3 linked regions of the Homo sapiens genome follow. The main gene of each other region encodes a partner of the protein of the gene in region 3 in a complex. Each region holds a gene or a part of one and is shown on either strand. Other genes may lie near its edges.

The links.
Region 1: PDRG1 (region 3) and URI1 share a complex: the UniProt entries of both Homo sapiens proteins name them as parts of the PAQosome complex.
Region 2: PDRG1 (region 3) and DNAAF10 share a complex: the UniProt entries of both Homo sapiens proteins name them as parts of the PAQosome complex.

Annotation. Positions count from the first base shown.
Region 1 is NC_000019.10:29,937,776-29,945,264, forward strand, and holds the start of URI1 (unconventional prefoldin RPB5 interactor 1), read left to right. Parts: upstream 1-4,463; 5' UTR 4,464-4,772; coding exon 4,773-4,889; intron 4,890-7,489. UniProt on the Homo sapiens protein: Involved in gene transcription regulation. Acts as a transcriptional repressor in concert with the corepressor UXT to regulate androgen receptor (AR) transcription.
Region 2 is NC_000002.12:68,129,279-68,133,534, forward strand, and holds the end of DNAAF10 (dynein axonemal assembly factor 10), read right to left. Parts: intron 2,168-4,256; coding exon 1,960-2,167; 3' UTR 527-1,959; downstream 1-526. UniProt on the Homo sapiens protein: Key assembly factor specifically required for the stability of axonemal dynein heavy chains in cytoplasm.
Region 3 is NC_000020.11:31,949,022-31,956,324, reverse strand, and holds the start of PDRG1 (p53 and DNA damage-regulated protein 1), read left to right. Parts: upstream 1-4,278; 5' UTR 4,279-4,363; coding exon 4,364-4,450; intron 4,451-5,937; coding exon 5,938-6,013; intron 6,014-7,303. UniProt on the Homo sapiens protein: May play a role in chaperone-mediated protein folding.

The sequences.
Region 1 (7,489 bases), on a different chromosome or scaffold from region 3:
CCCTCAGGACTCAAAAATGCCCCAATTTTTGGAGGACAAGGGTCATCTTGCCCACCTTGCAACCAGCCAGCCATTCCAGGAAAGCTATTCCTGCAGCCTCATGGTAGGGTGAGGGCTGAGAAATGGGGCATGGCAGCTGTTTTGCATCCACCCTGTTGCTGTTCTCTTACCAACAACCAGCAGCCTCTTTTTTCATCAAGAACTCCCCTGGCTGTTTATTCATGTCTCATGAGGTTTGCCTGTCTAATTTTTTGTATCTTTAGTAGAGATGGGGTTTCACCATATTGGCCAGGCTGGTCTCGAAATCCTGACCTCAGGAGATCCATCTGCTTTGGGCTCCCAAAGTTTTGGGATTACAGATGTGAATTATTGTGCCCAGCCAAGGCTGGGTAATTTGTAAAGAAAGGAGGTTTATTTGGCTCGCAGTTCTGTGGGCCATACAAGCATGTGGCACCAACACCTGCTCGGTTTCTGGTGAGGCCTCAGGAAGCTTCCAATCATGGTGGAAGGCAAATGGGGAGCTGCACGTCACATGGCAAGTGGAAGTAAGAGCTAGGGAGCAAGAGAGGAAGGAGGAGGTGCCAGGCTCTTTTAAACAACCAGCTTTCATGTGAACTCATTACTGCAGAAGAGCAGCAAACCATTCATGAGGGATCCGCCCCCAAGACCCAAACACCTCCCACTAGGCCCCACTTCCAACATTAGGGATCACGTTTCAACATGAGATTTTGAGGGAACAATATCCAAACCATGTTAGTGGCCCTCTATTGACTCCAACATCTATGAACAGGGCTGGTGCTTGCCTTGGTCAACTCTTGTCTCCCATTCCCAGTGGGGGGCCTGGCACATGAAGAAGGGATTAACCAATAATAAGTAATAAAGTAATAAGGTAATAAAATAATATTTACTTTTTTTTTTTGAGACAGAGTCTCACTCTGTCACCCAGGCTGGAGTGCAGTGGCACCATCTCGGCTCACTGCAAGCTCTGCCTCCCGGGTTCATGCCATTCTCCTGCCTCAGCCTCCTGAGTAGCTGGGACTACAGGTGACTGCCACCACACCTGGCTAATTTTTTGTGTTTTTAGTAGAGATGGGGTTTCACCATGTTAGCCAGGATGATCTCGATCTCCTGACCTCAGGATCTGCCCACCTCAGCCTCCCAAAGTGCTGGGATTACAGACATGAGCCACTGTGCCTGGCCTACCATTTTTTTTTTTTTCTGAGAGGAGTTTCACTCTTGTTGCCCAGGCTGGGGTGCAATGGCATGATCTCGGCTCACTGCAACCTCCACTTCCAGGGTTCAAGTGATTCTCCTGCCTCAGCCTCCCCAGTAGCTGGGATTACAGGCATGCACCACCACACCTGGCTAATTTTGTATTTTTAGTAGAGGTGGGGTTTATCCATGTTGGTCAGGCTGGTCTTGAACTCCCGACCTGAGGTGATTTGCCTGCCTTGGCCTCCCAAAGTGCTGGGATTACAGGCGTGAGCCACTGCGCCTTGCCAATTTTTTTTTTTTTTTAGACGAAGTGTCATTCTGTTGCCCAGGCAGGAGTGCAGTGGCATGATCTCTGCTCACTGCAACCTCTGCCTCCCAGGTTCAAGCGATTCTCCTACCTCAGCCTCCCGAGTAGCTGGGATTACAGGTGTGTGCCACCACGGCGGCTAATTTTTGTATTTTTAGTAGAGATGGGGTTTCATCATGTTGGCCAGGCTGGTCTCAAACTCCTGACCTCAAATGATCCGCCTGCCTCCACCTCCCAAAGTGCTGGGATTACAGGCATGAGCCACTGCGCCCGGCCAAAGCTGATCATTTGAAAGTGTGATAAGTGCTACAAAGAAAATTTAAAAAGTGAGGTGAGGGCAGATGCCTAGAGGAGAGGGGAGGGGCTTTTGTGGACAGGAGATCAAGAAAGCCCTGTTATTATTTGAACTGAGGCCTGAGTAATGGCAAGGAGGCAACCATGGAAAGATATGGGAGAAATATTGCAGGCAGAGAGATCAGCAGGTGCAAAGGCCCTGAGGCAGGAACTAGTCTGGAGTATCTGAAGAAGAGAGAAATTGTTGTGGTTGGCTTGAGTGGTAGGGGGCTTGGTTGGAGGTGGGGAAGGTGGGTCCGACAATGCTGAATTCTAGTAGGATGTCTGGATTTGATTCTGGTTGCTGTGGGAAGCCATGGAGGGCCCTAGAAGGGAGACTGACATGACCTGATCCCCTTTGAAAAGCTCACCCAGACTGCTGAGTGGATAATAGTTTAGAGGTGTGCGAATTGGATGTCTTTGGCTGCTCATGATAGAAAATTGTCCTGGTCATTTAGAAAATTTACTGGCCTTTTAAACGGGAAGTTCAGAAGTGATGCAGACTCCAGAGCTGGTTGATTCAGCCCTGGATCAAGTTCTGTGATGCTGTCAAGGATTGGGTTCTGTTCTCAGCTCTGCTGACCACAGATCGCACTTCATTCTGAGTACTGGAGTGTCTAGGTGGTCTGGGGGGCTGTCTGATACACATGGGGCTACCTGCTTTGCACTTCCTGGCCAAGGGGATAGACTGATTCCTTATGGGAGCACTTTTGAAGAATGAGGAAGAACCTTCTCAGGAGAGGCGTGGTGGCTCTTGCCTGTAATCCCAGCACTTTAGGAGGCCAAGGCGGGTGGATCACTTGAGGCCAGGAGTTTGAGACCAGCCTGGCCAACATGGTGAAACCCTGTTTCTACTAAAAATACAAAAATTAGCCAGGTGTGGTGGCACGCGCCTGTAGTCCCAGCTACTCAGGAGGCTGAGGCAGGAGAATCGCTTGAACCCAAGAGGCAGAGGGTGCAGTGAGCCAAGATGGCACCATTGCACTCCAGCCTGGGCAACAGAGGAAAAAAAAAAGAACCTTCCCAGAAGCCTCCAGGAAGTCTCTGTTTGGACGACATCGCACACCCATTCTTGAACCAACTATTTAGAAGGGAGATGCATCACCCCCTTTGCCTGGAGCTAGGGGGTGGGTCAGCTTCCTACAGGCACAGGACTATGTGGTCGCGGGTTAAGCCCCTAAACGAGGGGAAGTGGGGTGGGCAGCAGCCGATCTCCATTACAAGGGACAAGAGTAGGGGCAGCAAGGCCAGATCAATGGTTGCTGAGGTGGCTGGGGATGGAGAGAGGATGGTGGTGGTAGAAGAGATGGTAACAATGGTCAGGTCCTGGCTGTTCCAGAGGTGATGATGGTTGGATATGCAGTGAGGAAAAGACAGGAATGAACATTTATCTTTTCCCAAGTTGTCCTTGCTTTCTTCCTTTGAAGCCATAAAAAGGAAAAAAAGGGTGGATCTGGACTTGGGAGCTGGGCAGGAGTGAGGGAAGAGAAGCAGAGCAAGCAGGCACACCAGGCTGTGACTCTGCAGGCATCTCTCTGCCTAGACTTGTCTGTATGATGTGGAACGAACACGACCCATCTTTACTGCTAGCGACTGCAGCAGATAAGGCAAGGCCACTTTCACGCAGTTAGGTTAATAGGAGGCTGTACAAAGGGCTGTAGGAGGAAGTGGGCACAGGAGTTCTAAAATAATTGGAACGGCCAGGTGTGGTAGCTCACACCTGTAATCCTAGCACTTCAGGGAATCCAAGACAGGAGGTTAGCTAAGACAGGAGGCTCGCTTAATGTCAAGACCAGCCTGGGCAACATAGGGAGACCCCGCCTCTACAAAAAATAGAAAAATTAACAGGATGTGTTGGTGCGGGCCAGTGGTCCCAGCTACTCCTGAGGCTGAGGTGGGAAGATCGCTTGAGTCTAGGAGTTTGAGGCTGCAGTGAGAAATGATGGCACTACTGCACTCCAGCCCGGGCGACAGACCAAGACTCAGTCTCTTAAAAAAAAAAAAAAAAAAAAGAAAAGTGGGGGCAAAGTTATCCTTGGAAAATTTCTTAGTCCATTCATAGCAGCATATTAAAATTAGTACAGTAGCTTAATTTATATAAGAGAAAATACAATGTGTACAGTAATTAATGAACATGCAAAATATAATTGTATATTTCAACTCACTAAAAAGGCACAGAAAGAGTTGAATTTGCTAAAATTAAATGTGCTTATGAAACAGCTCTAGTACATGAATTAAGCTCCTAGATACAGATGCAGCGCCAAACGACGGGGAGGGAGATGGGGCACTCAAGGCGACACGCGGCTCTTGTTGCCGAGCGTTTCCTGGGCGTGGAGCTTCTATAGAATGTAAGCTTTTTTTTTTTAAGGTTCCAAAGCCTATATTTAGTGCTTTCATATACGTAATCTCAAAAAAAAAAAAAGAAAGAAATATCGGCATAAAATGTAAGCTTCCAGAGGGATACAAACGCAGCCCAGCGCGGACACCGCCAGCCCCAGCCACGCGGTTCGCATCAAGCGCACTCCCCTGGGGGCGGGGCCTGCGCGAGCTGGGCGTGTCGGGGGCGGGGCCTGCGCGCTTGCTTCCGGCGTGCCGCGAGAGGCGGGGCGTGTGGGGAGGCGCGGCCGCCACGCGACGCCTGGCTGGGCCCGCACCGGAGAGGCGTCTCGGTACCTGGCAGGCGGCCTGCTACTCGGAGCCCGCTGCGGGGCGGCGGCGGCGGGGACATGCACGTGTGAGATGCGGCAGCGGGCGGCGCGGACGCGAACAGCAGCGGCGGCGGCGGGCGCGGCCTCCTGGGCGCGGGGCGCGCGGTGCCTGAGGGCGGGCGCGCGGGCGCTGGGCAACTGCCGGCCGCGCCGCCTGCGCAGGCGCTGGTTCAGGACTCACACGCCGCGCTGAGGCCCGCGGGCCCGTCATGGAGGCGCCCACCGTGGAGACGCCCCCCGACCCCTCGCCCCCTTCGGCCCCGGCCCCTGCCCTGGTTCCGTTGCGCGCCCCGGATGTGGCGCGGCTGCGCGAGGAGCAGGAAAAGGTAACTAGCAGCCCCGCGCCGCTTCCGCCTCCGCCCGCCGGGCTGCCCCTGCCTGTGCTCTGGGCCGCCGCCCCGCGTGGCCTAGGCCCAGCTGCCCGGGCCCCCGGAGGGAACGGGGATAAACTTTTGTCACGTGCTTCTGTTGTCTTTGTCTGCAGCCCTTTGACTTCGCAGCGGAGTGAGGGGTGTGCAGCCCGTTCGCCTGCCCAGGAAAGGGGGCTTCTGAGCTGAAGGCGTGCGGCAGCGCGTGGGAATTTGGGGGCGGGGGCAGCACGCTGTCAACGGAAGCGTTCGCCTTAATATTTGTAGCTTGTAATGACCTAAACATTGCTTAAAATGTGTACTGTTTGTTGCTCTTTGATTGCACGGAAAAGTTTTACCGCGTTTGTCATGATAATGCTTCCTGTGCAATATTTGGTTATTTAATATTTGTCACAATATAATGCCATTTAAACATTAAAAAAAAAAGAGAGTCTCACTATGTTGCCCAGGCTAATCTCGAACTTCTGGCCTCAAGCGATCCTCCCCCTCCTACCCTTCCCCACCTCGCCTCCCAAAGTGTTGGGATTATAGGCCTGAGTCACCGCACCCGGCTCATTTTTACAAATTTTAATTTCATCGTATAATAAATGAGTTTTAAACTACTGGTGAAAAGGGTACAAAGTTTTGTGTTTCCTAGTGGGACTTTATATAAAGAAGTATTCCCAATTTAAGAAATAGTTTTATTGTTAAATCTGATTTTTCTGTGGATTCTGTGGTCTTTCAGATTGATTCTGTCCCCTCAAGTGTCTTGAAATTGTTACTTTGAAAAGCAGTATTTAATTTGCTTAAAATATTTTATGTCATGTTTGGAAGAGCATGGATTATAAAGGGTTAGGAAGTTGCTTCAACACTATAAGCAGTTTAAAAGTTCTTAACTTTTTAATTGAACATTCCTGTATAAGAACGACTGTTTACATAGATACAAAAATATACTCAGTTCTACTAGATGGGGGTTTTGATAGAACTTAAAAAACCCTCGTTTGCTTGGAAACCACCTGTTGGGATGAACTGCGGGAATCTTTCTTTGTTCTGGTTGGTTTAAATTATTTTGTGGGTTGGATTTTCATTTCTCAGCCATTTTTCTCTAATAACGCAACTGTTAGGTTTGGAAGCCATGTTTTCAAGATGAAGGTTTAAAAATCCAGTGGCTAGGGTGGTGACTCAAACCTGTAATCCCAGCTGCTTGGGATGTCAAGGTCGTGGAATTGCTTGAAGCCAAGGAGTTCGAGATCAGCCTGGGCAACACAGGGAGACCTCCGTCTATACAAAAAAATACAAAAAATTAGCCGGGCCATGGTGGTGCACGCTTGTAGTCCCACGTACTTGGGAGGCTGAGGTGAGAGGATCACTTGAGCTCAGGCGTTTGAGGCTGCAGTGGGCCATGGTCATGCAACTGCACTTCACCCTGGGCGACAGAGTGAGACCCTGTCATTCATATATATATATATATATATATATATATATATATATATATATATATATATATAAAACTTAACTAGTTTGGCGTCTTTAAATTAGAAGACATTAATGTATTTTTTTAAAAGAGAAAGATAGAAAAAGAAGAAAGAAAAAACAGCCCCTCATGAAATCTTACTCCTTTTGCCAAAACTTGGCATTTTTTATTCTTTCAGAGAATGTGACACAGACCCTCAGAGGATGGTGTTTCTATTGCCTTTCCTCTGCTGCAGTGGGTTAATTTCACCTCCTTCAGTGTATAATACGTGCATAATGCTGACTTGATATGTTTTCTGCCATTTGGCATATTAAAAAGATATCCTTAGTTTTATTCTGATGTTAGTGTGACTGAAATGCAAAGGATACTTTTTGGGGTGCTCTGAACAGCTTTCTGGTATCGTGTTGAGTTACATTGGAAGAGAGAGTAACTGCTTTTTCAGTTACAGTCTTGTGGCAAACTGAATGACTGTTTTCTGTAGACATTGACTGTGCTACCAAATTATTTTTCTGTGTTGTGTTAATGTTAATTCGGCACACAAAATAACCACGTATATCTGTCATGGGTGTGTAAAATTATCCCCAGTTCAGGAAAAAGCGCGTCAGTATTTAATCTATCTTTATTTAATAGAAGCATTTGCTTCAGTGGACAGGAGACCCACAAGGCCACAAAATAAACTGATTAGATAGCTGCACTGTAATTATAGTGTAGTACAGGAAAACTACCCAGTAAATCGGCAGTGAAAATTTTTTGTGAAGCAATTTATTTAGGCTTTAAAGCTGGCCCAGTTGTGGGAGTACAGTGAGTTCTAGTAAAGTAGAAGCGTAGTGACATCCTGAGTGTAGAAGGGGAAAATGTCATAGTAGCTTCATATGTGGCACTTAGTATTCCTTTATGAAAGATGAATCAAACATGCTTTTAAGCTCTTGGCCTTTCCCTACATGGGTTTTGTGAGACAGAGTTAAACTCTGCAGAAAATGATTTGAATGACTGTTCTCAGTTTTCCCTGAGAGGGTACCTACCTAGTTGGCTGTAGATGCAGAGAGAGAAATGAGTTCCTTACACACAGTGGGTGCCTTAGGCTTAGGGCATAATCTTCTCTGGG
Region 2 (4,256 bases), on a different chromosome or scaffold from region 3:
AAAAAAAAAAAAAAAAAAATTTGGAAACAACAACAAAAAAAAAGCTTAATTTTCTCAACGTAATATTCCAAATAAGTGACTCTCCATGATCACCTGAAATCACATAAATTTTGCATATTATGAATGTTTTAGTTGGCTCCGTTTTCTTGAATGGCATAGCATCAGTGATATTGATGACATCTTAGATTTAATAAAATACAGGTATTTATTGTTGTTGACTCTATTACCAAATACAAGTGTTCTAAGAGAGACTTCTAAAAATTTTCTAAACTAAAAAAAAAAAAACCTTAATTTTCTTAACTTAATATTCCAAATAAGTGACTCTCCATGATCCCCTGAAATCACATATACTTTACATATTGTGAATGTTTTAGGTGGCTGCGTTCTCTTCAATGGAGGTGGGGGAGGGTAGGCTTAATGAAAATGTGGTAAAGTCAATAATTCCAAAAGGCTTAGCTAAAGATATGTTGAACATTAAAGAAACAAAGTGAATTAAAACTACTAATTAAGCATTTATAAAGCAAAATGATGTGACAATGTTAACTTTATTACTACTGTTAAGGTAACAGAATCAAAGCTTCTGTAGATCTCAAAAACAGAAGTTTATTCATAAAATGCATTTTTAAAGTATGACCAAAAATAAGACTACAAAACCCCTACAATCTTGTACATTTCACCATCACTTACCACAGTCAAAAACCAAAAGTCTCACCAATTCAGTTCCTGTATTTTAAGTAAAAAAGAGCTCTTTAAAATCAAAGCATTTTGTTTTATGAATTAAATTGCAGAAAATAGCTACCCAAATCTAGACCAACCGTGCCGTTTTGAGAGAGAGAGATATATATATATATATTTGTTTTTTTTTTTTTTGAGACGGAGTCTCACTCTGTCGCCAGGGCTGGAGTGCAGTGGCGCAATCTCAGCTCACTGCAATCTCCACCTCCTGGGTTCAAGTGATTCTCCTGCCTCAGCCTCCCAAGTAGCTGTGATTACAGGCGCCCGCCACTAAGCCCAGCTAATTTTTTGTATTTTTAGTAGAGACGGGTTTTGACCATGTTGGCCAGGCTGGTCTCGAATTCCTGACCTCGTGATTCACCCGCCTCAGCCTCCCAAAGTGCTGGAATTACAGGCGTGAGCTACCACGCCTGGCCCACCATTTTGATATTTTATACAATAATATTATGTCCAGAAAATTACTCACACTGAAATCTCTCAAAATGTATTTATGAAGGTTAATTCAGTTTTTCCAAGGCAAACTCTTTTAAACCAAATGAAATGATTCCCACCACAACATTATAGACACTAAAACATAACACAAGCATAAAGATAAAATATGGAACTTCAGGGACACAGAACAAATCTGAAATATGTTTAATTATAGACAACTATTGACTTAGAAATGGAAGGGAGAGAAAAGAACTGGCCCTGGAGATAGTTTACTTGGTGCTTCTGATACCCACGTGCAGCAGCAAGTCAGCAAACAAGCCCCGAGAGAGGCTGGAGGCTGGCCCAGAGGCTTGTGGCTGGGGTCTTTTATCATCAGCCAAATCCAGCTTTGTTCAATGAGGGTCAGAGGACTCCAGAACCTATCTTAAATTGTGTGAGTGTTCCTCTGGAAGGTTTCAAGTCCAAAGTCTTTTTTTTTTTTTTTTTTTTTGAGACAGTCTTGCTCAGTTGCCCAGGCTGGAGTGCAGTGGCACAATCTCGGCTCACTGCAACCTCCGCCTCCCGGGTTCACGCCATTCTCCTGCCTCAGCCTCCCAAGTAGCTAGGACTACAGATGCCCGCCATGACACCCAGCAAATTTTTTTTTATATTTTTAGTAGAGACGGGGTTTCACCATGTTAGCCAGGATGGTCTCGATCTCCTGACCTTCTGATCCACCCGCCTCGGCCTCCCAAAGTGCTGGGATTACAGGAGTGAGCCACCGTGCCCAGCCTCAAGTCCAAAGTCTTGAAGTCAAATTTTATTGAGCTTTGTAACGATCAGTACTCTCACCGTTTGGTCAAATGAACTACAGACGCAGAGACCCCTTTTATCTGGACTCCAATCCAAACTTGAAATGGGCTGGGTGGACAACGTAACATTCTGCAGAAGGCTTACAGAACCTGCGACTCCCATTTCTATTCCCTCAGAATCTTTCTTTGACCGCTGAATAGGGTATTCACTGAAAACAAGATCAAAATGGTAAGAGCGCATAAATCTTAGCTTTCACCATTTTATTTTTATACATACACTTCAATGACTCTATTTCTCAGTTGGTTACTGGGACTAATAAATACTTAAAGAATCTTTCTAATACTGAGTTGTTTGCAAATAAAGAGACAATTTCAACCTCAATCCTATCCCAAAACACGTCATAAAAAAGGGTTATTAGTTCTACTAAAAACTTCTAAAAGTCATTTCTGCTCAACGTGTATCTGTATTTTCTCTTTTAATATGAAAGTTCTAGGTTGATCTAGGATTCTTTAATACATTTACTTGGTGCTTTTGGCAATCTTTTATTTATTGTAATTTTTCTCCAGATATAGATTGCTGGATATCACAGGCAAACAATGTGCAAAGGCAATGGCTGTAAGTAACATTTGCAGAACTTCATCTAAACACTTCCAGAATGAAAAACTGATGCCAGCTTCTAACCCTCGAGCTCCATTACACGGACCCAAGCCTAAGGACCTTTTGTGTACCATTTCTATGGGAAGGCGTCACAGGGTGGAGATGTTAGACCTAAATGTAATTGTTTCAAACAAGAAAAAAGTGGTTCTGAGAACATTTTTTTTTTCAGCTGAAAATATAAATTTATACAGTAAGAAAAGCAGAAGGTTAAAGTCATAAATCCTATTTGGTCTAGATTTGAAAAGGGGAAAGAGAACACTCCTCCCCAATAGAGATGTGTTCCTAATAAAATACAAAAGTATCACTCCTCAGAAGGCCTTTTAAAACCTACTAGTATCAATTATGACAACATCTTTATTTCATACATGCTGGCAAAGGCCAAGAACGTAAGAAGCACAAAGCCAATCAGAAGCAGAATGGAAAGGGAAGAAGAATCTACAGGTGGATGATCTACTATTTTCTCTTCCTCTCAAACCCTACAAATCATTTTGATGAAAAAAAATAAAACATTCAGATGAATAAATGGTTTAAATACAGACACCTTTCACATATCTCTTGGCAAAGGCTGCAGTTATTTAGTATTCAAAAGATAACATAAAAAATTTTTAAAACCCTCCATATTATCTGTTGAAGTTTTAAAAGAATATGTGTATATGATTCAAATACTTGGAAAAAAAATCAGCATGTTGAAGTTTTTCATTCAAAAAACAAGTCGTGAATAACTAGATGATTTCTTGTAGAAGCTGTTCGTTCAGTGGTCAATAAATATTTACAATTTAATTGCATTACTACCAAGACAGACTGGCAAATGAAAATAAAGCTAAATATCATTGTACTTAAACCAATTCCCTTTGCTGGTACAATACTTGACAGTAAAACTCCAAACCGATTTGAAGATTAGACTGGACATCTGTTCTGGTTAGGTGTAAAGTTTACATTGCGCTAAACTTCAAATTTGCATACAGACCTAACTTTACTGACGGAACTAAATCCGCTGTAGTAAAAAATTCCAGCTGCGAAAGTGTTCGTGTGCCTCATGGAATACAAATCCATGTGTAGATTACAAAGAAAACTGGGACTAGTTCTTCAAGCGAGCAGCCTAAAGAGTTTGGTCACCAAGTAAAATAGTGATGTGCCACCACATGGCTTCACTAAGGGGACTGGCAGAGTCTAACGTGGGGAGGAGACCGGGATGGAAGAATCAGGGAAGAACAACAGGCAGAGGTGCTAGAAGAAGGGAAAGTAGCAAGTGATCTCTCTACCCCACATTCTCCCAGAACGACTCAAACTTTTCCTCTGCTTTTCACTCAGAAACCATATTGGTTGTTTGTTTGTTTGTTTGTTTGTTGAGACAGAAAAAGTCTCTGTCGCTCTGTCTCACTCTGTCACCCAGGTTGGAGTGCAGTGGTGCGATCTCGACTCACTGAGACCTCCACCTCCCAGATTCAGGCAATTCTCGTGCCTCAGCCTCCTAAGTAGCTGGGACGTGTGCCACCACGCCCGGCTAGTTCTTGTATTTTTAGTAGAGACCCGGTTTTGCCATAATCATACTGCTTCGATCTAAAGTGTTCACTCTGGCTGGGTGCAGTGGCTCACACCCATAATTCCAATACTGTGGGAGGCCGAGGCAGGTGAATCAC
Region 3 (7,303 bases):
TCATTCATTCAAAATTGTTTATCAAGCACCTACTGTGGGAGCCAGGCACTGTTCTAGACATTTGAGAGACATCAGTGAAGAAATGAATGAAAGATTCCTGCCCTCAAGGAGCCTCTCTTCTAGCAGAGGGAGATGAACAATAACCATAAGTAAATTATAAGGCATGCTGGGAGGTGACAAAAGTTATGATGAAAAGAAAGAAAAAGAAAAACTAGAGCAGAGGAAGTTGATCAGGAGTAGCAGGAGGGGCAGAAGTTGCATTTTAAACATGGTGGTCAGGGCAGGCTCCATTGAAAAGGTGCCATTTAAGAAAAGACTGGGCCAGACGTGGTGACTCATGCCTGTATTCTCAGCACTTCGGAAGGCCGAGGCAAGCAAATTACCTGAGGTCAGGAGTTTGAGACCAGCCTGGCCAATGTGGTGAGACCCCTGTCTTTACTAAAAAAATACAACAATTAGCTGAGCATGGTGGCACACACCTGTAATCCAAGCTATTCAGGAGGCTGAGGCAGGAGAATCACTTGAACCCAGGAGGTGGAGGTTGCAGTGAGCCAAGATTGTGCCACTGCACTCCAGCCTGGGTAACAGAGTGAGACTCCATCTTAAAAAAAAAAAAAAAAAAAGCTGGTAGATGGTGAGGGAAGGAACCATGTAGACATCAGGGAAAAGTGCAGGCAGAGGCAGCAGCCAGTGGAAAGACCCTGAGGCAGGACCACGCCTGGCTTGTGTGAGCAGCAGCAGGGAGGTGGGTGATGACCCAGAGAGGGGGACACTTTTCCAGTGAACAAGACAGACAAGGTCTCTGCCCTGGGGAGCTCATGATTACAAAGCAAGGTGTTTAGAGAACAAAGATGGTATGGGAAGTACAGAGACAAGGGAAGTCCAAAAAACTGTGGGGGCCCAGAGAGGACTCTTGACCCTCAGGAGGAGGTAACCCCAAGCTGAGCAGTGGGGGATATGGAATAGTGACACGTGAATAAAGGCATGGGAGAAAATTAATCCAGAACGATGGGGGAGTATGTGCAAAGGCCCTGAGAATCCCACCACTGGTCACCACCCCCACTGCTATCTCTTGGTGCAGTGGCCACCCTCTCCTGCCTAGATGATTATAGCAGCCTCCTCTTGGGTCTCTCACAGAGGGGCAAAGAAGCTAGAGTATACAGTCACTAACGACTCTCTTTTCTTGGTAGGAGTTCACACTCGTGGATATTAATTCACTGCATTCCCCTCTCAACCTGCATCCATGAGCAGAGAGAAGCAGGAAGCCACAGGCATACACAGCAGTGTCTGCAGGTGACCTCTGGGGAGGCCCTAGTGGATTTTGGGTGGGGCACTGCCAGCACCTTCCACAGCCCTGTGTGCTCAATGTCTCCTTCTCCTCTCTGTCCTACCCTCTCCCCCTCACTAATTCTATTCAAATACACTGGCTGTTCCCTCTGCCTGGAATGCTCTTCCCCTAGATATCCACAAGGCTCACCCCCTCATCTCCTCCACACTTCTGTTCAAATGCCATCTCCTCAAAGACACCCTCTCTGACCAGCTTATCTCAAATAGCCCCTCCATTATTCCACCTCCACCTTGTCCTGTGCTATCTTTTCTTTTCTTATCTTTTCTTTTCTCCTTCCTTCCTTCCCTCCTTTCTTCCTTCCTTCCTTCCTTCCTTCCTTTCTTTCTTTCTTTCCTTCTTTCTTTCTTTTTCTTTCTTTCTCTCTTTCTTTTCTTTTCTTTTTTAGAGAAAGGGTCTCACTCTGTCACCCAGGCTGGGTTACAGTGGCACGATTGTAGCTCACTGCAGCCTTGAACTCCTGTGCTCAAGTGATCCTCCCACCTCAGCCTCCTGAGTAGCTGAGACAACAGCCGCACACCACTACATCTGGCTAACTTTTTAATTTTTATTTTTTTGGTAGAGATGGGGGTCTTGCTATGTTTCCCAGGCTGGTCTCGAACTCCTGGGTTCAAGTGATTCTCCACTTTGGCCTCCCAAAGTATTGGGATTACAGGTGTGAGCCCCCACATCAAGCCGCTATTTTTTTGGTAGCACTTTTTACCACCTGACATATGATATATTTACTTGTTTTATGTTGATTGTTTCTCTCACCAGACTGGGAGATTCCTGAGAGCAGGGACCATGTCCAGTTTTGCTCATGGCAGAATCCCTATCACAGGGCCTGGGAAGTCAATACATAATTGTGAAATAAATGGCTCTGAAATTGAAATGCTCTCCGAGAGTCTTTCTGGGTCTGACCATTTCAAAGTCTTGGAAATGACTATGATTCCCCTCCCCAACATTTCCAGTGGCCAGGGGTGGCCTCTAAAGGCCAGTTACCGCCAAGAAGCTGCTAATGTGGGAGCCTCCCTCAGCCTCTCCCCATCCAGGCCCATGTGGTAGGGGTCAAGGGTCAACCTGGTCCAGCCCTCTGTGGGTCCCAAGGTGGAGGAGACGCAGTGCTGGGGTCCAGGCCGAGGGATGCCTGGTGAGCCCCATTTCTGCTTTGGCAAACATCCCCCTTTCCTTCTCAGGGCCTGTGCCTGCATTTCTGAACCAGAAGGTGTTTATACAAAACATCCTGGGTTTGGCGACAAATTCACCCTCAGTGAGGAATCCTTAATGAATCTCCCTCCTTCCCCACACCAGGTGGCTGAAGGAAAAATTAGCTCTGCCTCTGGTAGTTGAAGGCAGCCAATGGCTAGGCAACATAGAGGTGCTGCTGGGGCTTCTGGGGCCACAATTTTTGGGGAGGGTTTTTTCAGGGTCCGGAAATGGCATGGACACCAGGCACTCCTGGCTTGCTGTGTGATGAGGCACTGCCTTTCTCCTGGCCTCAGTCTGCAGCTGTGAAATGGGGCAGTAATAATCCCATCCATACAAAGGTTGCTTTGACACTCAAGTAAGGCAAGGGGTGTGAAGGGGCTTGGTTACAAGAGGTCAAAAGGAGAGAATAAAACGCTGGAATCAGGGAGGCGAGACATCAGAGTGATAATATCGGTTCTGCTCTTTAGACTTTCAAAGTCCTTTCCCAGCGCCTTTTACAGCCATGTGGGCTCAATGCCTCCTTCCCTCTGACCTCCTGCCTGCTTCCCCCCCGCCCATTCTGTTCCACATACGCTGGCTGTTCCCTCTGCCTGGAACACTCTTCTCCTAGGCATCCACATGGCTCACCCCTCACCTTCTTTTCAAAGCCTTGCCTCTCTCTGAGGTTTGTTTTTTCCAGCTATCCAATGAGGAGTTTGGGCGTGAAGACCTCGTGGGAACCCTCTGGTTCTGATGGTAACCATTTTCCACCTGCCTGCCTTCTCTGGGAAGTCCTCCCAATCCTACCACCCACACCCACCTGCTTTTCTGAGCTAGCACTTCATTGCTTACTGCCCATAGTTTTCAAGTCCCTTCCTTATGTATAGGCCAGCTACTCTGGACATTGGGCCCAACACAGGGGCTCAAGTGAACTCTGGTTAAACGGAATTAAAAGTGATTACTGCTTCCTTTGTTTTTTGAGACAGAGTCTCGTTTTGTCACCCGGGCTGGAGTGCAGTGGTGCCATCATAGCTCAGGGCAGCCTCGACTCCCCAGATGCAGGTGCTCCTCCCGCCTCAGCCTCCTGAGTAGCTGGGACCAACGGGCGCGCCCCCCCTCACCCAGCTAATTTTTTTTTTTTGTATTTTTAGTAGAAACGGAGGTTTTACTGTGTTGCCCAAGCTGGTCTCGAACTCCTGGGCTCAAGTGATCCCCCCGCTTTGGCCTTCCAAAGTACTGGGATTACAGGCATGAGCCACTGCGCCCAGCTGATTCCTGCTTCCTTCCGATCCTGTGGAGAGACACTGAGGCGGATTTTTATTCACCCCCTTTTTATAAATTAGAAACTGAAAGTGTCAGAGATTAAACATAAGTCACACTGCCACATGGGCCTTCTTGGTGTTTCTTAGCCAGGGGAAGAATAATATTTCCCAGATCCTAATCACTACCTGCCACGGTATATAATTGTTTTGCCATTAATTGTCGGTGTTTCCCACTAGGATGAAGTTCCATGAGGGCAGGGATTTTGTTGTGTTCACTGCTGCATCCTAAGCACATAAAACTGCTTGGCACATAATAAGTGCTCAAGAAGCATGAACCGAGGGAGTAACGGGTCAGAGGCAGCCCGAGGACTGAGCTCTCTGAGCCTGCAGAGGGCGCTCCAGCCCCGCCCCCAAAGCTAGGCCCCGCCTCTCGCAGCCGGCTGGCGCACTAGTGTTAGAGCCTGCGCACCACCGTTCTTTTAACTGCGCAGGCGCGCCGGAAGCACCTAGAGAGCGGCGCGTGCGCAGCGGGAGTCGAAGCGGAGATCCCGGGGTCGCGCGAGAGCCGCAAGCGGAGTTGGTGGGCGCTATGCTATCACCCGAGGCAGAGCGAGTGCTGCGGTACCTTGTAGAAGTGGAGGAGCTCGCCGAGGAGGTGCTGGCGGACAAGCGGCAGGTGAGAGGCCCCTCCGCGGCGCTGGGGCCTGGCGGCCGGCGCCGTGGGAAAGCGCGCGGGGTCGCAGTGAGTTGACCTGGACAGGCGGTTAACGGCTCCGAGGCGACAGACCTGGGCCGATAAATATTCGGCCGCTACTAAGTGAGCGCCTGCGCTATGCTGGACATTCCTCTCTCTTCATCCTTTCTCTGCCCCTTGCCATGCTCTGTGGATCTCGACCCATCATGCTCTGGGCCGTTTCCCTGAGCACCTGTTTCAAAATGCACTTCCCGGCCCCATGGTTGATCTAGGGGCACCGCCCTGTAAAGGCCCTCAGGGGAGAGCTGGAACCGAAAAGAAGCCTGAGGGGGCCTTGTGACCGGGCAGGGGTGGGGACGTGGGGGAAGGTGGCGCCCTGTTTATGGGGTGTCTTGTTTTAAGTGCCAAGTTTTTGAGGGGAGTTCCTGGGGGAAGGAGGGTGACGTAATTGGATTTAGGTTTTAAAAGGATCCCCCCTGGCTGCTGTGTGGAATACAGAATATAGGTGGGCAAGGGCGGAGGCAGGGAGATGGGTGAGGGGCCATTGGTATGGTCCAGACCAGAGATGGATTTGGACTAGGTAGTGGTGGTGGAGAGAAGTGAAGGGGTCAGAAATGTATTTTGGAGACAGACTCAGTAGGCCGTGGTAGTGGAGCCGGGGGAGTCGTGACTCCCTCTCATCTCCAGTTAGAAGGGTCAGGTATTTACTGAGAAGGGGAAAACTTGGGCAAGATCCTGTCAAATTAAGTACTGGATCAGGGTGTGCTGGATGAGAATAAGAGCAGTTAAAGTTTATCAGCTACTTACTATGTGCCAGGTACTGTGTTAAGTCATTTAATTGCTGGCTCAATAACCTGTAAGGTAGGTACTGTCCGTAGCTCCATTTTGAGGAGGAGTAAATAGGAAGGTGAAATTACACAGCTTGAGGCAGATAGCAGGATTCGAACCTGGGTATTCCAAATCCAGAACCAGCACTCGTGCAGTATACTGTACTACTGCGTCACTTCCTTAGTAGCTATTGTGTTGTTACCACTGTCTCAGTGCCCCCAATCCTGCTGTTCCAATCTAGTATTGTTGGGTTTCTCATATTACTAGTTCAGAATCAGCTGGAGAAGTTTGTCCAAAAATAAACATTAGGCCTGCTTAATCACAGTGTGTAGGGGAAGGGTTTCCACTCCCCTGGTGATTCTGATATGCCCTAAAGTTCGAGTGGATAATGCAGAATTTCCCATTTAGTCAGCACATGTTTTCTCAGCATCTTTTCTGGGGAGAGGGCAGCTGCACAAAGCATTGTCTTTAAGACCAGGAAGCTGAGTGAGAGAAGAAATACATTCACACATCAATCCATTTTAGGCAGGACGTTGAATGTAATCAGGAATAATGCATTGCCTCTGCAACCCTTGTCTGTCAAGAGGTGACAGCTTGGGGCAAGAGATAGCTGAGTTCCCTCCTGTCCCTGTGGTTTTCAGATTGTGGACCTGGACACTAAAAGGAATCAGAATCGAGAGGGCCTGAGGGCCCTGCAGAAGGATCTCAGCCTCTCTGGTAAGTTGAAATTTTCTCAGTGCAGCCCTGGAGGCCTGTTCCGTTTTCCTTTAAGGCCTTTACCTTGTTCCTGATAGAGATCAGGCAGGAGGTCACAGCTGTATAACTCAGCCTTGTGGGAAATTGAAACAGTCCGGGGAGATGGGGGAGCAAATTTTGCAGTTCTGGCACAGACTGTGGTTCAGGATTTTGCCTGCTCACTTCAGTGACAGGTCGTTAGCTCCTGGCTTATCAACGATGGCAGACACTGAGAGAGTGCCGGGGGTGTATAAAACTGATGGTTCCTGCCCTTGTGCTTTACAGATGAGGAAAACAACGTAAAATGCGTAATTGAAAATTGTAAGAAAGCCAGAGATGGAATTGGACTTGGGGTGGGTGTTGAGAATATATATCCAGAAGAATGGGACACTTTAGATGAGGCCAAGTGGCTGTGGCAGTGGAAGCAAATGGGGAGTAAGTATGGCTGGAGAGAGGGACAGAGACCAGGCCATAATGAAAGGTCTTGGGGGCTAAGGGAGGAAGTTTACATTTTGTTGAAAGTACACTAGAATGTGCAGAATCTTCCAGTTGCTTCTCATCTCACCTGAGTAAAATCCAGAGGTCCTACAAGACCGAGTAATCCAGCCCCCATGAATCCATGAGTGTGCCAATATCATCTCTACTCCCCCCACCCCCAACATGACTCCACCTACACTGGTCTCCTTGCTGTTCTTTTATTTATTCATTTATTTATTTATTTGGAGACAGAGCCTTGCTCTGTCACCCAGACTGGAGTGCAGTGGCATGATCTTGGCTCACTGCAACCTCTGTCTCCCAGGTTCAAGTGATTCTTGTGCCTCAGCCTCCTGAGTAGCTGAGATTACAGGCGTGTGCCACCACACCCAGCTAATTTTTGTATTTTTAATAGATACAGCGTTTCGCCATGTTGGCCAGGCCGGTCTCGAGGTCCTGGCCTCAAGTGATCCACCTGCCTCGGCCTCCCAAAGTGCTGGGATTACAGGCGTGAGCCACTGCGCCCGGCCCCTTGCTGTTCTGAACACCCCAAGCACACTACTGATCTTTGCTGTTCCTGTTGTTTCCTCTGTTTGGCTCACTCTTTCCCCAGATGTCTGCAGGGCTCACACTCTCACTTTCCTTAGGTCTCTGTGTAGATAGCATATAATCAGTAAGGCCTTCTCAGACTACCTGCTATGATTAACAAGGTCCTCCTCTGGCATTCCCTAGCCATCTTAGCCTGCTTTATTTTTCTCTACAACTCTTAAGGTCTGACAAATCATATCTTTATTCTCT